Homo sapiens: one gene and its partner. The main gene of each other region encodes a partner of the protein of the gene in region 2 in a complex. Each region holds a gene or a part of one and is shown on either strand. Other genes may lie near its edges.

Evidence for each region. The genes of interacting proteins can lie anywhere in the genome.
Region 1: DRC10 (region 2) and DRC8 share a complex: the UniProt entries of both Homo sapiens proteins name them as parts of the nexin-dynein regulatory complex.

What each region holds. Positions count from the first base shown.
Region 1 is NC_000001.11:244,972,671-244,980,080, reverse strand, and holds part of DRC8 (dynein regulatory complex protein 8), read right to left. Parts: exon of another isoform or gene 6,783-7,410; coding exon of another isoform or gene 6,654-6,782; intron 1-6,653. UniProt on the Homo sapiens protein: Component of the nexin-dynein regulatory complex (N-DRC), a key regulator of ciliary/flagellar motility which maintains the alignment and integrity of the distal axoneme and regulates microtubule sliding in motile axonemes.
Region 2 is NC_000012.12:113,203,698-113,211,107, forward strand, and holds part of DRC10 (dynein regulatory complex protein 10), read right to left. Parts: intron 6,432-7,410; exon of another isoform or gene 6,304-6,431; intron 4,813-6,303; exon of another isoform or gene 4,563-4,812; 5' UTR 4,470-4,562; coding exon 3,741-4,469; intron 1-3,740. UniProt on the Homo sapiens protein: Component of the nexin-dynein regulatory complex (N-DRC), a key regulator of ciliary/flagellar motility which maintains the alignment and integrity of the distal axoneme and regulates microtubule sliding in motile axonemes.

The DNA of each region.
Region 1 (7,410 bases), on a different chromosome or scaffold from region 2:
CGCCCAGCTAATTTTTTTTTTTTTTTTTTTTTTTTTTTTTAGTAGAGACGGGGTTTCACCGTGTTAGCCAGAATGGTCTTGATCTCCTGACCTCGTGATCCACCTGCCTCGGCCTCCCAAAGTGCTGGGATTACAGGCGTGAGCCACTGCACCCGGCCTTGTTAAAAACTTTTAATCACTCACCAATGCTTTAAGAATAAAAATTCCCACATCTCCTAACCCATCCTAAATTTCGGCCATATTGAGTCTTCACAATTTCAAGTATGTTATTTCTTCTCTTCCTGAAATATCCATCCCCTACTTGTTCTCTGTGCTATTACACCTTCAAGATAAGCCTGGGGCTGGGAGTCGTGGCTCACACCTGTAATACCAACACTTTGGGAGGCCAAGGTGGGCGGATCACATGAGGTCAGGAGTTCCAGACCAGCCTGGCCAACATGGTGAAACCCCGTCTCTACTAAAAATACAAAAATTAGGCCAGGCGCAGTGGCTCACACCTGTAATCCTAGTACTTTGGGAGGCCAAGGCAGGCGGATCATTTGAGGTCAGGAGTTCGAGACCAGACTGGCCAGTATGGTGAAACCCCGTCTACTAAAAATATAAAAAAATGAGCCCAGCATGGTGGCACATGTCTGTAATCCCAGCTACTTGGGAGGCTGAGACATAAGAATCGCTTGAACCCAGGAGGCAGAGGTTGCAGTGAGCCGAGATCACGCCACTGCATTCCAACCTGGGCGACAAGAGCAAGACTACGTCTCAAAAAAAAAAAAAAAAAAAAAAAAAAAAAAGATAAGCTTCGGTTATCTCCTTCAGAAAGCCAACTTTGATTCAACATTCAGCAAATACTGAGCTATATGCCATGCTCTGGGTATATGCATGAGCATGACCCCTATCCTTTTGGAAGTTAAGAGTCTAGGAGAAGCAGACATCAAACAACACATCTACAGGCAATTACAAAATATAGTATGAAAGAGGAAAAAAACAAATAGCTATGAGAGGGAATAAAAAGGGGCTATAATTTAAAGAGGGTGTGTGTGAATCAGGTGACTCTCCCCAGGCACCCAATCATCATACATGTGCAACTATCATAGCACTTATCACATTATTGTATCATTGTCTCCTTAGCTGCCTATCTTCCTCTTTAGATGGAAATTCTTCAAACCAAAGGTCAGATAAATTGACACTAACAAGCAAAATCTTAAAAAGAATAAAAAAAAAGGCAATGTCCAAATTCTAGTCCAGGTTTTTAAACTCCCAATTTTACTAGTGCATTTAAAAAAATAAAATTATGGGCCAGAGGTGGTGGCTCAAGCCTGTAATCCCAGCACTTTGGGAGGCCAAGGTGGTAGGATTGCCTGAGGCCAGGAGTTTGAGACTAGCCTGGGCAACAGAGCAAGATCTTATCTCTACCAAAAATAAAAATGTTAGTTGGGCACAGTGGCACGCCCCTGCAGTCCCAGCTACTTGGGAGGCCAAAGTGGGAAGATCACTTGAGCCCAGAAAGTAGAGGCTACAGTGAGCTGTGATCAAGCCACTGCACCCCAGCCAGGGTGACAGAGTGAGACCTCGTCTCTTTTTTTTTTTTTTTTGAGACGGAGTTCCGCTCTTGTTGCCTAGGCTGGAGTAAAATGGTGCTCTCAGCTCATCACAACCTCCGCCTCCCGGGTTCAAGTGATTCTCCTACCTCAGCCTCCCGAGTAGCTGGGATAACAGGCATGCGCCACCATGCCCAGCTAATTTTGTATTTTTAATAGAGACGGGGTTTTCCCGTGTTGGCCAGGCTGGTCTTGAATTTCCAACCTCAGGCGATCCGCCAGCCTCAGCCTCCCAAAGTGCTGAGATTACAGGCGTGAGCCACTGCGCCCGGCCTAGATCTCATCTCTTAAAAAATAAAAATAAAAACTAAAATTACTTTTTTACAGTCTTAATATCTATAAAATCCATACTAGAGGTTTACAAAGGATTGTCAAGTACAGGATCTGGTAAACACACTTTCACAAGTGGGTAAGAATAATTTTTAATTAGCATATTTAAGTGGGTTTTTAAAGTTTTGTAGAACTGACATTAAAATGAGATTTTAAAAATAAGTGCCCCTAAAAGTCTAATCACCCTGCTATCATCATCATCTCCTGGGCTCCCCCACGTGTCCTTACCCATTTACACATATAATTTTTATATATTTGGCTGCAACCCAACAAGTGGACATACAACCATTTATTTTGTATGCCCCATTAGTTGGACATGCAAATGTTATCTATATTTTCAAATTTATAGATAACTTTATGTTGATCATTTTTGTGCTTAGAGCATTTTTTATTCTTTTCAGAATATATTTCTAAGGATAAATATCCAGAAGTATATTAAAGCTCAAAGCATGTGGACATCACTTTTTATTATTATTTTTTATTTTTTTGGTTTTAAGAAATAGAGAGTTTAACAGGCAAGAAGGAGCAAGAAAGGAGAAGGAAGAAGCTTCCCTGTACAGAGACAGAGGGATGGGGGCTCCAAAGCCAACAGAGGGAACCCCCGACTTCTTTATTATTATTTATTTTATTTTTAGCAAAGATGAGGTCTCAGCATGTTGCCCAGGCTGGTCTCGAACTCCTGGTCTCAAGTAATCCTCCTACCTCAGCCTCCCAAAGTGCTGAGTTTACAGATGTGAGCCACCTTGCCTAGCCATCATCATTTATTCTTCAATACAAATTTCCAAATTGCCTTTGAAAAACAATGTACCATTTCTTTCATTCTGAATGTACTCAACATTTTCTATTTACTAAAATGTGGTAAAATACACATAATGTAAAACTTACTGTATTAACCACTTTTAACCATATAGTTCAATAGTGTTAAGTACCTTCACACTGCTGGGCAACCAATCTCCAGAACTTCCTTCATCTTGCAGAACTGGAACTCTACACTCCTTAAACAACTTCCCATTCTCCTCTCCCCACAGCCCCTGGCAACCAGCAATCTACTTTCTGTCTCCATGAATTTGACTTCTCTAGGTACCTCATGTAAGTGGAATCACAGAGTATTTGTCTTTTTGACTGGCTTATTTCACTTAGCATGATGTCTTTCAGGTTCATTCAAGCGGTAGCATGTGTCAGAATTTCCTCCTTTGAAGGCTGAATAATATTTCACTACACGTATATACCACATTTGGTTTGTTCATTCATCCGCTGATGGACACTTGGCTTGCTTCCACCTTTTACCTACTGTGAACAATGTGCTATGAACATGGTTGTGCAAATATCTCTTCGAGGCCTTGCTTTCAATTACTGTGGATATATACCCACACGTGGAACTGCTGGGTCACATGGTAACTCAACTTTTAACTTTCTGAGGAACCGCCATACCACTTTCCATAGTAGCTGCACCATTTCTCATTGCCACCAACAGTCCACGAGGGTTCCAGTTTCTCCACATCCTCACCAATACTTATTATTTGGGGGACTTCTGGTGATAATAGCCTTCCTAACAGGCGTGAGGTAGTATCTCACTGTCCATTTGATCTTTAAAATTATGACTATTCTTGAGACATTTCTGTAAATTTTATATATCAGAGCAAAAACAAATTTCAGTCCAGTTTTTCTTCAAATTTTTTTTTATTCTGAATAAGAGGAAACAAATTAGGCTTCAAAAAGCTAGTCTTCTTGTTTGCTTAGTCTTAACCGGATATTTATATTGGTCTAAAACAGGAAGAAAACTTATTAAATTACCCCAGAAATATGCAGGAATGCATTATGCATGATCCCAATTGGTAAGACTTAAAAGTTTTCTTAACTCTTATGTTTTATTTGTTTTTTTGTTTTGAGATGGAGTCTTGCTCTGTTGCCTGGGCTGGAGTGCAATGCTGCGATCTAGGCTCACTGCAACCTCCATCCCCCAGGTTCAAGCAATTCTCCTGCCTCAACCTCTAGAGTAGCTGGGATAACAGGCAACCACCACCACACCCAACTAATTTTTGTATTTTTCGTAGAGAGAGCGTTTCACCATGTTGGTCAGGCTGGTCTCGAACTCCTGACCTCAGGTGATCTCCCCACCTCGGCCTCCCAAAGTGCTGGAATTACAAGCAGGAGCCACCACGCCTGGCCAACTCTTATGTTTTATGTTAAGCAGATACTAATACTTACTAATTCACTAGATACGTACCAAACACTTTCTTTCCCATTTATTCAGCATTCCTTTATTGTATTTTTTATTTATTTATTTATTTATTTTGAGACAGAGTCTCACCCTGTTACTCAGGCTGGAGTGCAGTAGTGTGATCTCAGCTCACTGCAACCTCCACCTCCTGGGTTCAAGCGATTCTCCTGCCTCAGCCTCCTGAGTAGTTGGGATTACAGGCACGCGCCACCACACTCAGCTAATTTTTTGTATTTTTAGTAGAGACAGGGTTTCACCATGTTGGCCAGGCTGGTTTTGAACTCCTGACCTCAAGTGATCCACCTGCCTGGGCCTCTCAAAGTGCTAGGATTACAGGCGTGAGCCGGCCTCAGCATTCCTTTGATGCCAGGCACTGTGGCAGGTGCTGGGGATGTAAAAATGAATAAGAAAACATTGTCCCCATTACAACATTATGAAATATTGGGGGTATAATTATCCCCACTTTACATCTGAGGAACTTGAAGCTACTTATGTTTAGCATCTCGGCTAAGATCAGATAATTAGAGCTTGGGGAAGACGGAATTCAAATTCAAGTCTTACTTCAAAGCTCAACCTTTGTACTGTCCCACAGGCTACACTCTATACTATCGACAGTTACTATGAGGCCAGGCAGGGTGGCTCATGCCTGTAATCTCAGCACTTTGGGAGGCCAAGGCAGGCAGATCACTTGAGCTCAAGAGTTCGAGCCAGGCGTGGTGGCTCACGCCTGTAATCCCAGCACTTTGGGAGGCCGAGGTGGGCGGATCACAAGGTCAGGAGATCGAGACCATCCTGGCTAATACGGTGAAACCCCATCACTACTAAAAATACAAAAAATTAGCCGGGCGTGGTGGCAGGCACCTGTAGTCCCAGCTACTCGGGAGGCTGAGGCAGGAGAATGGTGTGAACCTGGGAGGCAGAGCTTGCAGTGAGCCAAGATCGTGCCACTGCACTCCAGCCTGGGCGACAGAGCGAGACTCCATCTCAAAAAAAAAATAAAAATAAAAAAAATAAAGAGTTTGAGACCAGCGTAGCCAACACAGTGAAACCCTGTCTCTACAAATTAAAAAAATTAGTCGGGCATGGTGGCTTGCGCCTGTAGTCCCAGCTACTTGGGAGGCTGAGGTCGGGGGAATCGCTTGAGCCCAGGAGGTCGAGGCTGTAGTGAGCCGTGATGGCACCACTACATTCCAGCTTAGGCAACAGAGGTTGCACCACCACATTCCAGCCTGGGCAGCAGAGCAAGACCCTGTCTCAAAATAAAAGAAGAAAAAAAAAACAAAGACGTTATTTAAGGGAACCCTTTTTATAAAGTAATAGGCACCTGAAATTTCTGTTTTTTACTTTATATTTCCAAATGTTGGGTTTTCAAAAGAGTGGCACAATGAAGGAAATCAGAAACAAAACAACAAACCTTGTAAAACCTCTTCCATTTAGGAGGTGATAATTGAATTAGAGGCACTTTATCAAGCAATGTTATCAAAGCACGCAAAGTAACAAAGAATATTTTAATAGAAACAAAAATAGTAAATCCTAGAGTGAGCTTTTAATATCTGCAGCTTACTAAAAAGTTCTTACTTTCCAAAGCTCACTGGCTGCCAAAAGTTCAAATTTTATAACTAAGCAGTTTGTTTCCTAGACGTGAGTCTAATTACAAACAGAAGATCCTTCCAGTCCTATATAAAATTCTCTAAGAGACAGAAACAATAAGATTTAAGGAGCCAAAGAATCAACAATTGCATTGACTCTCCATTTAAACAGACAAAACAGAAGGAAAAGAAAGAACAAAACAAAAAATGTTCTGGCTGAGGAAACTTTGGAAAAATAATAAACCTTCAAAAATATTTTTTCTCATCCCGTTTCAAACATTCTTCTTTCAGTTAAAAAAGTGGTTTTAAAAATAATTTGGTTCTAAAGGTTAAACTTTTAGCTAATATAATTCTGTATAATTTTTAATCTATGAAAAAATAAATTATACTGTATGAAAGCAAAAAATGCTACAAATAAGTATAACAACTTCAACGTACATAATCTTAGAAAAAAATTTTATGAGCACAATAGCCCCTTCTAATTTAGGTAATTTTTCTTATCAATATTCTCAATACTTCTATCAAAGTTAATCTCTAAATATTGAAGAAGAGTGGATAGGATAGGTACCCTGAAACTTATTCCCCCTTTAGAACTTTTAGAAATCTCAATATTAAGGATGAACTATTTAAAACATATGTGTATTTCTACAATGAGGTTTTTTGTAGTTGTTTTTTAAAGACATGCTAGTGAATACCGTGGCACTGTGAAATAAAACGTTTTGTTGAGCCAGATGGAATAGAAGAATGTATCTTACCGGTAAAGCAGAGGGGAAAAGAGACCTAAAACGAGTTTTGTGTACTTTTAGGTATAGAATAAGTTTGGGGAAAATAGCTAGGAATGCTTTGGTTAAAATCTCATAAGCTGTCTTTGATTAATTCAAATGTTCTGAATTCAACAAATATTTATTGATTACCTACCACGTTCCAAGCACTCTGCACAACACTCAGTATTAACAGATCAGAAATGGTCCCAGATCTTTTGGAACTTAGAGGGTACTGAACACATCCTTCAAAATTATCCTTTCTTTTGTGTGATTCCACGGTCATCAAATGACTTCTGAAATACAAATTCACACTACCCGAAGCTTAGTACCCATAAAACAGTATATTATTATATTAGTATATTGCCAAAATTATTATATTAGTATATTGGCAAAATCAGCCTTCAAGTCAATGTATATACCCTTATTTAAATTAATAAATCATTCAGGTTTGCACATCAGTCTTTTATGAGTTTAGTTGAGTGAATCCTCAAAACTTAATCAATTCTGATTAATTGGTTAGACGTAATTTCTGAAAATTCAAAATACAGTAGCTGACAATCAAATATAGTAATAGACTATTTCCATAAAAAGATCTTACCACCAAAATGAGTCTCTACTTAGTTTATCCTCTAACAAAATGCCTTTATTTCATAATACCCTTCACAAACTGCAATTAGTTAATCCATAAAACTGTTAACAATAAATGAGATACAGCACATGAGTGCTTCTCGAACTTTGTTTTTTGTTTTTGTTTTTTTTTTTTTTTGAGACGGAGTCTTACTCTGTCGCCAGGCTGGAGTGCAGTGGTGTGATCTTGGCTCACTGCAGCCTCCGCCTCCCCGGTTCAAGCAATTCTCCTGTCTCAGCCTCCTGAGTAGCTGGGACTACAGGGCGTGCCACCACGCCCAGCT
Region 2 (7,410 bases):
ACTCCTGACCTTAGGTGATCTGCCTGCCTCAGCCTCCCAAAGTGCTGGGATTACAGGCATGAGCCACTGTGCCCAGCTAATTTTTTTTTTTTTTTTTTTTTTTTTGTAGAGATGGGGTTTCACCCTGTTGCCCAGGCTGGTCTTGAACTCTTGACCTCAAGTGATCCATCTGCCTTGGCTTCCCAAAGTGCTGGGATTATAGGTGTGAGCCACTACTTCCAGCCAGACACCCCATCTCTAAAAAAAGAAAAAAAATTAATTAGGCAGGCATGGTGGCATGTGCCTGTAGTCACAGCTACTTGGGAGGCTGAGGCAGGGAGATTGCTTGAGCCCAGGAGTTCGAAACCAGCCTGGGCAACATAGCGAGACCCTGTCTCTACAAAAATGTAAAAAATTAGCCAAGAGTGGTGGCGCATGCCTGTAGTTTCAGCTACTCAAAAGGCTAAGGCAGGAGAATCGCCCAGGAGGTCAAGGCCGCAGTGAGCTATGAACGTGCCAATGCACTCAAGCCTGGGTGACAGAGCAAGATCTTGTCTCTAAAACTAAAAACTTCTAGAAACCAAATTCCTTGATTAGGCCTCAAAGGCCCTGTGTGATCTGTCTCCTTCCCCTGCTTTCCCAGCCCATCTTTGTCCCTTCCCTCTAGCTCACTGGCATTCTCTGGGTTTCTGAACTAGCCAGGCTTATTCTTGTCTCATTACTGAGGTGCACTCTACCCTCCACCTGGAACAGGGGTTGGCAAACTATGGCCCACAGGCCGAATCCAGCCAGCCACTTGTATTTGTAAGTAAAGTTTTGTTGGAACACAGCCCATTCATTTACATATTGTTTGTGGCTGCTTTTCCCCTATAACAGCAAAGCTGAGTTGAGTAATTGCAACAGACCATCTGGCCCACAAAGCCTAATGTTTTTACTATCTGGCCCTTTGTAGAAAAAGTTGGGGCCAGGTGCGGTGGCTCACACATGTAATTCCAGCACTTTGGGAGGCTGAGGTGGGAGGTGGGAGGATCACTTGAGACCAGGAATTCAAGAACAGCCTGGCCAAAATGGCAAAACTCTGTCTCTACTAAAAGATACAAAAATTAGCCAGGCGTGGTGGCACATGCCTGTAATCCCAGCTACTCAGGAGGCTGAGGCACAAGAATCACTTGAACCTGGGAGGTGAAGGCTGCAGTAAGCTGAGATCATGCCATTATACTCCAGCTTGGGCATAGAGTAAGACTGTCTCAAAAAAAAAAAAATAGTTCGCTGATCCCTAGCTTGGAAGGTTCTTCCTCACTGCACTTGCCTGGTTCACGCCCTCGCATTCTTCATATCTTGGCTTCAATGTCCCTGACCTTTTGGTGTTAAGTTCTCCTGTAACACTCCCTTTGAGAAGTACATTGTACTTCTCAAAACTGTAATTAAATGAATTCTTTAATTCCTACCTTCCTTACTGTGAACTCCATGAGGCTGGAACCACATGGGCTTATTTATAAGACCTGGCACCTAGTAAGTACTTACAATAATTTGTGGAGTAAATGAATTTTTTTTTAAAAAAAAAAAGCTACTTAGGCCAGGCGCAGTGGCTCACGCCTATAATCCCAGCACTTTGGGAGGCCAAGGCGGGCAGATCACTTAGGGTCAGGAGTTCAAGACCAGCCTGGCCAACACGGTGAAACCCCATCTCTACTAAAAATAAAAAAATTAGCTGGGCATTGTGGCGGGCACCTGTAGTCCCAGAGACTCGGGAGGCTGAGCCAGAAGAATTGCTTGAACCCAGGATGTAGAAAATGAAATAGAGGTTCCTCTTCAAAGGGACTTTCCTCCCAGTCTAATTCAGAATAGGTAGTAACCTCTCTTAGAACCAAAATTTACTCGAAGACCTGTGTTAATATTCTTCAATTCTGCTAGCTGTAATAAAGAAATCAGGCCGGGCGCGGTGGCTCATGCCAGTAATCCCAGCACTTTGGGAGGCCGAGGCGGGTGGATCATGAGGTCAGGAGATCGAGACCATCCTGGCTAACAAGGTGAAACCCCGTCTCTACTAAAAATACAAAAAATTAGCCGGGCGCGGTGGCGGGCGCCTGTAGTCCCAGCTACTCGGGAGGCTGAGGCAGGAGAATGGCGTGAACCCGGGAAGCGGAGCTTGCAGTGAGCCGAGATTGCGCCACTGCAGTCCGCAGTCCGGCTTCCGGCCTGGGCGACAGAGCGAGACTCCGTCTCAAAAAAAAAAAAAAAAAAAAAAGAAATCAATAGGCCGGGCGTGGTGACTCACGCCTGTAATCCCAGCACTTTGGGGGGCAGAGGTGGGCGGATCACGAGGTCAGGAGATCGAGACTATCCTGGCTAACACGGTGAAACCCCATCTCTACTAAAAATACAAAAAAAAAATTAGCTGGGTATGGTGGTGGGCACCTGTAGTCCCAGCTACTCGGGAGGCTGAGGCAGGAGAATGGTGTGACCCTGGAGGCGGAGCTTGCAGTGAGCTGATATCACACCACTGCACTCCAGCCTGGGTGACAGAGCAAGACTCCGCCTCAAAAAAAAAAAAAAAAAAGAAATCAATATACTCTGTTCTTAGCTCCCACATTTTAGCTTAGATATTTGCCTTGGCATACCTGAACCGGTCCAAGCAAGCATTAGGTCATAGCCTATTCCTCTTCCTTATTTGGAGGTGTTTTTGCCTCTCTCAGCATTCCAGGAGTTACTTGCTCTCTTCCTTTGTTTCCCTCTGCCTTTGCCTCTTTTGGGAAGTTCTAAATTGCTAGCCAATCGGGTTGAGTACAGAATGTGAGGTCCTGTTCCAGCCAATGGAAACTGGACACAGCAGTAGGGTGGATGCGTCAGGTTATAAATGACCCCGTCTCTTTTGTTCATGTGTGCTCTTGTGGCAAGACTGCTAGCAAGCAGCACCCTTTCTGCAGAGAGTAAACTAGCCTTGCTGAGAGATCCTTTGTCTCAGTGTTGATTTTGGCGACACCGAGCACCCATTCCCAACACAGGAGGCGGAGGTTGCAGTGAATCAAGATGTTGCCACTGCACTTTAGCCTGGGTGACACAGCAAGACTCCATCTTAAAAAAAAAAAAATCACTGGGGAGGCCGGGCATAGTGGCTCATGCCTGTAACCCCAGCACTTTGGGAGGCCAAGGCGGAAGGATCTCTTGAACCCAGAAGTTCGAGACCAACCTGGGCAACGTAGCAAGAGCCCATCTTTACAAACAATCAAAAAATTAGCCAGGCATGGTGACACACACCTGTAGTCTCAGCTACTTGGGAGGGTGAGATGGGAGGATTGCTTAAGCCTGAGAGATGGAGGCTGCAGTGTGCTGTGATCATGCCACTGCACTCTAGCCTGGGCAACAGAGTGAGACCCTGTCTCAAAAAAATCAGTCAATCAATTGGCCAGGCGCAGTGGCCAGCACTTTGGGAGGCCAAAGCAGGAGGATCACTTGAGGTCAGGAGTTCTAGACCAGCCTGGCCAACATGGCGAAAACCTGTCTCTACTAAAAATACAAAAATTAGCCGGGCGTGGTGGCATACGCCTGTAATCCCAACTACTTGGGAGGCTGTGGTGGGAGAATCGCTTGAACCTGGGAGGCAGAGGTTGCAGTGAGTCGAGATTACACCACTGCACTCTAGTCTGGACAACAGAGCGAGACTCCATCTTAAAAAAAAAATCAATCATTGAGGAAAAACCCAACCAACAAAAGATTTGTGTGGCTTCTTCAGTAATTTCAGCAATACTATGAAACAATACCTCTGCATTCCTGTTCTTCATTCTCTCCGCCAATTCCTTTTCAAGAGTATCAATGATTTGTTGGTTATTACTATTCTGTCTACTGATATCCTGTAAGAACTGGGCCTTATCCCTCGCTTCCATGGGACTAGTGAGTAGTTTTTCAAACAGGAAACCACGGAGCTCTATCAGGCTGTCAATAAAATTCTGGGCTTCTGCACTTCTACCCTGTGTCTGCATCTGCAGGAGCCTAGCAGCCTGGGGGTTGCTGAGCAAGAGTCTAAGGACGTTCTTGGTGGAGTCTTTGATCTGCTGCATAAGTGGTGAGAGGCTGGATTTCTGCAGCTCTATGGAAAGGAGGCGGTCTCTGAGCCACCCTTCCTCCTCAGCCTCTTTCTGCTCCTGCAATTGCCTTTCTTTCTCTTTCAGGCACCTGACGTTTTCAAGGAGGACCTGGCAGAGATCCTCATGCTCTCTCACTGCCCTCATGACGTCCTCCCCCAGCATCCCCTCCATATCCTCTCTGTTGGATGCCACATACGACAGCAAGGTCACCAGCTCCACCTTGTAGATCGCCTCATCCAGGATGGACATGATCCTTTTGGCCTCAATGGTGGTGAGTTTGGTCCTAGAGAGAACCAAGGGTTTTAGTGGATCAGCTGGCCTTTTAGATGGGTCTGTCTTTGGCCCTATTCTGTTGATGGCAGGGGCCTGATACAAAGGGGCCATGGCGAGAATGTCTAAAGCCATCTTGTGAGCAGCCCTCTGTGCCTCTGTAGGTCCACAGAGATGGAGACTTCGGTAGACTACTTGGGTCTCGTGCTTTTATTGTCTCTGGCCATCCTGCAAAATGAAGAAGTAGGTGTGAGTGCAGCTGTGCTGACATCTGTGTGGTTAGTGTGGCTGCAGAAACCACAACTGTTGACATCAAGAGTTCATCTTAGGTCCTCTGTCGCTTTTACACAGAACCTTTCACTGGAAGCAGTTTTCAGCTTTGTGAGGGTGTTAGGGCCACAAGGGCAGGAAGACCAAGTGTGGAGGCATCTCAGGCACATGTGTCAGGCGGGGACCAGCCAGGCATACAGACAGCATTCTAAGGATTTAAAACCAGAGACTGGTTACATCAGTGATGGGAGAGTTGAGAGGCCAACCAGGGGAAGACAAAGCCATCCCGCAATTGTCAATGGCAGGAAGCCACCACATGAAGAGATGGTGAGCCTGGGGCCCAGGGTCACCCAGGGGAAGTTTGAACCACAGCCATCAGTTCCCAGAGGAGCTAGAGACATTGCCGGAAATGCAGATTAAAGAAGGGTGGCGGTGGGGGAGGAGAAATACCCTGGTTTCTTTCTACTGCCCTTGGCCAAAACCAGCAGGAAACCAACTGACAAGCAGCCTGGGCGACGGAACCACAGGCCTCAGCCTATGTCTGAGCAGGACAGGGACAGGGCAGAATGCAGTGTAAGACTAACAGGACTAGGAATGGCACATTTTCACTGATTTTAAAGTTTTTTGGTTTGTTTGTTTATTTGTTTTGAGACAGAGTCTTGCTCTGTCGCCCAGGCTGCAGTGCAGTGCCATGATCTCGGCTCACTGCAACCTCTGCCTCCTGGGTTCAAGTGATTCTCCTGCCTCAGCCTCCTGAGCAGCTGGGACTACAGGTGCACACCACCACGCCTGGCTAATCTTTGTATTTTTAGTAGAGACAGGGTTTTGCCATGTTTGCCAGGCTGTTCTCAATCCACCTGCCTTTGCCTCCCAAAGTGCTGGGATTACAGGCCTGAGCCACCACGCCTGGCCATTTTTAAGTACTGATTTTAAAAATTGGTGGGTGAAATATAACTTTGAAATACAATTTAAAAAACTGTTTCACTAAATGTAATGTTGTATTCTGGATTGGGTTCTGGAGTGGAAAAAGGACATTAGTGGAACTGGAGAAATCCAAATCCAAATCCAAATCTAGTCTAAAGTTTAGTTAATAGCATTGTACCAACATTAATTTTGTAGGCGCTCTGTTACCCTGGCTGGAGTGCAATAGTGTGACCATGGCTCACTCCAGCCTCGACCTACTGGGCTCAAGTGATCCTCCTGTCTCAGCCTCTCAAGTAGCTAGGACTATAGGTGCTCGATGCCTAGCTAATTTTTTAACTTTTTATAGAGATGAGCTCCACTATGTTGCCCAGACTGATCTTGAACTCCTAGGCTCAAGCAATCCTCCCACCTTAGCCTCCCAGTGCTGGGAATACAGACAGGAGCCACCGTGCCGGGCCTAATTTTGTGGTTTTGACAAACACATCAAGGTTATCTAAGATGTTAACATTAGGGGGAGCAGAATGGAGGGCATACGGGAACTCTCTGTACTATCTTTGCAACTTTTCTATAAATCTACAATTATTACAAAGTAAAAAGTTTAGTTAAAAGACTATTTCAGGCCAGGCATGGTAGCTCACACCTGTAATCACAGCACTGTGGGAGGCCGAGGGAGGTGGATCATCTGAGGTCAGGAGTTCAAGACAAGCCTGGCCAACATGGCGAAACCCCGTCTCTAATAAAAATACGAGAGAATGCCAGGCATGGTGGTACGCACCTGTTACTCAGGTTAACCCCAGTTACTCAGGAGGCTGAGGCATGAGAATCTCTTGAACCTAGGAGGCGGAGGTTGCAGTAAGCCAAGTTTGCATCACTGTACTCCGGCCTGGGCAACAGAATGAGACTCTGTTTCAAAAGATAGATAGACAAATAAATAACTGTTTCAGAAAAATCTATAGGGCAATCAGAGATCAGTAATTTATATTGCTTTCATAGTACAATGGCTAAAAGTACTAGCTTTGCACAGCCCCACTTGGGTTCAAATCCTTGCTGGGGGTCTCTGGGCTGGTCATTTAATCCTCCAGAGCTTGGGCTTCCTCAGCTGTAAAACAAGAGTCCTCAGGATGAATGAGAAGCCTGCACGCTGTAAAAAATGTTCAATAAATAACTAATAGCACTAACCCAGGAAAACGAAAATCCCAAGTCCAGGACTTTAATGATTTCTGATGCAATTGCTGAACGAACACCTACTGCCTTGGCCAAGCACAGGGGCTCACGCCTGTAATCCTAGCACTTTGGGAGGTTGAAGTGGGAGGATCGCTTGAGCCCAGGAGTTCAAGACCAGCCCAGGCAACATAGCAAGTCCCCATCTCTTAAAAAAGAAAAAAAGAAAAAAAAAAAAAAAAGAACACCTACTGCCCAGGATGTCTGCTCACCCCCCAACACCATGTCTCAGATGGACACCCCCCATAACATCCCCATCCCTCACCCTGATTCTTCTTCATCTCTTCCCCCTTATCCTGTTCGTTCTCCAGGTTAAGTATCACCATCTGACATCCCTATATGCACCTGTTTATTTGTTTATTGTCTGTCTTTCCCCCTCTCCTAAGAAGTAAGCACCAATGAAAGCTGTAAGTTACTACTTACAGGTTACCTGTGCCACTTTTATTTTCATATTGTCTGTAGATGTGAGAAATGTTTTGAAGAAAGAATCATTAGGACTTGAGTGAAAGAGTTTTGAGTTTGGGTGACTGGTAGAGAAAGATGGGGCCCTTAAGAAACTATGGCAGAAATTGGGAGAGGAGAGGACATTTGGAGGGGAGGACAATGAGCTCACTTTTAAACTCATTGAGCTCTAGCTGCCATACTGCAGTGGACAATGGTG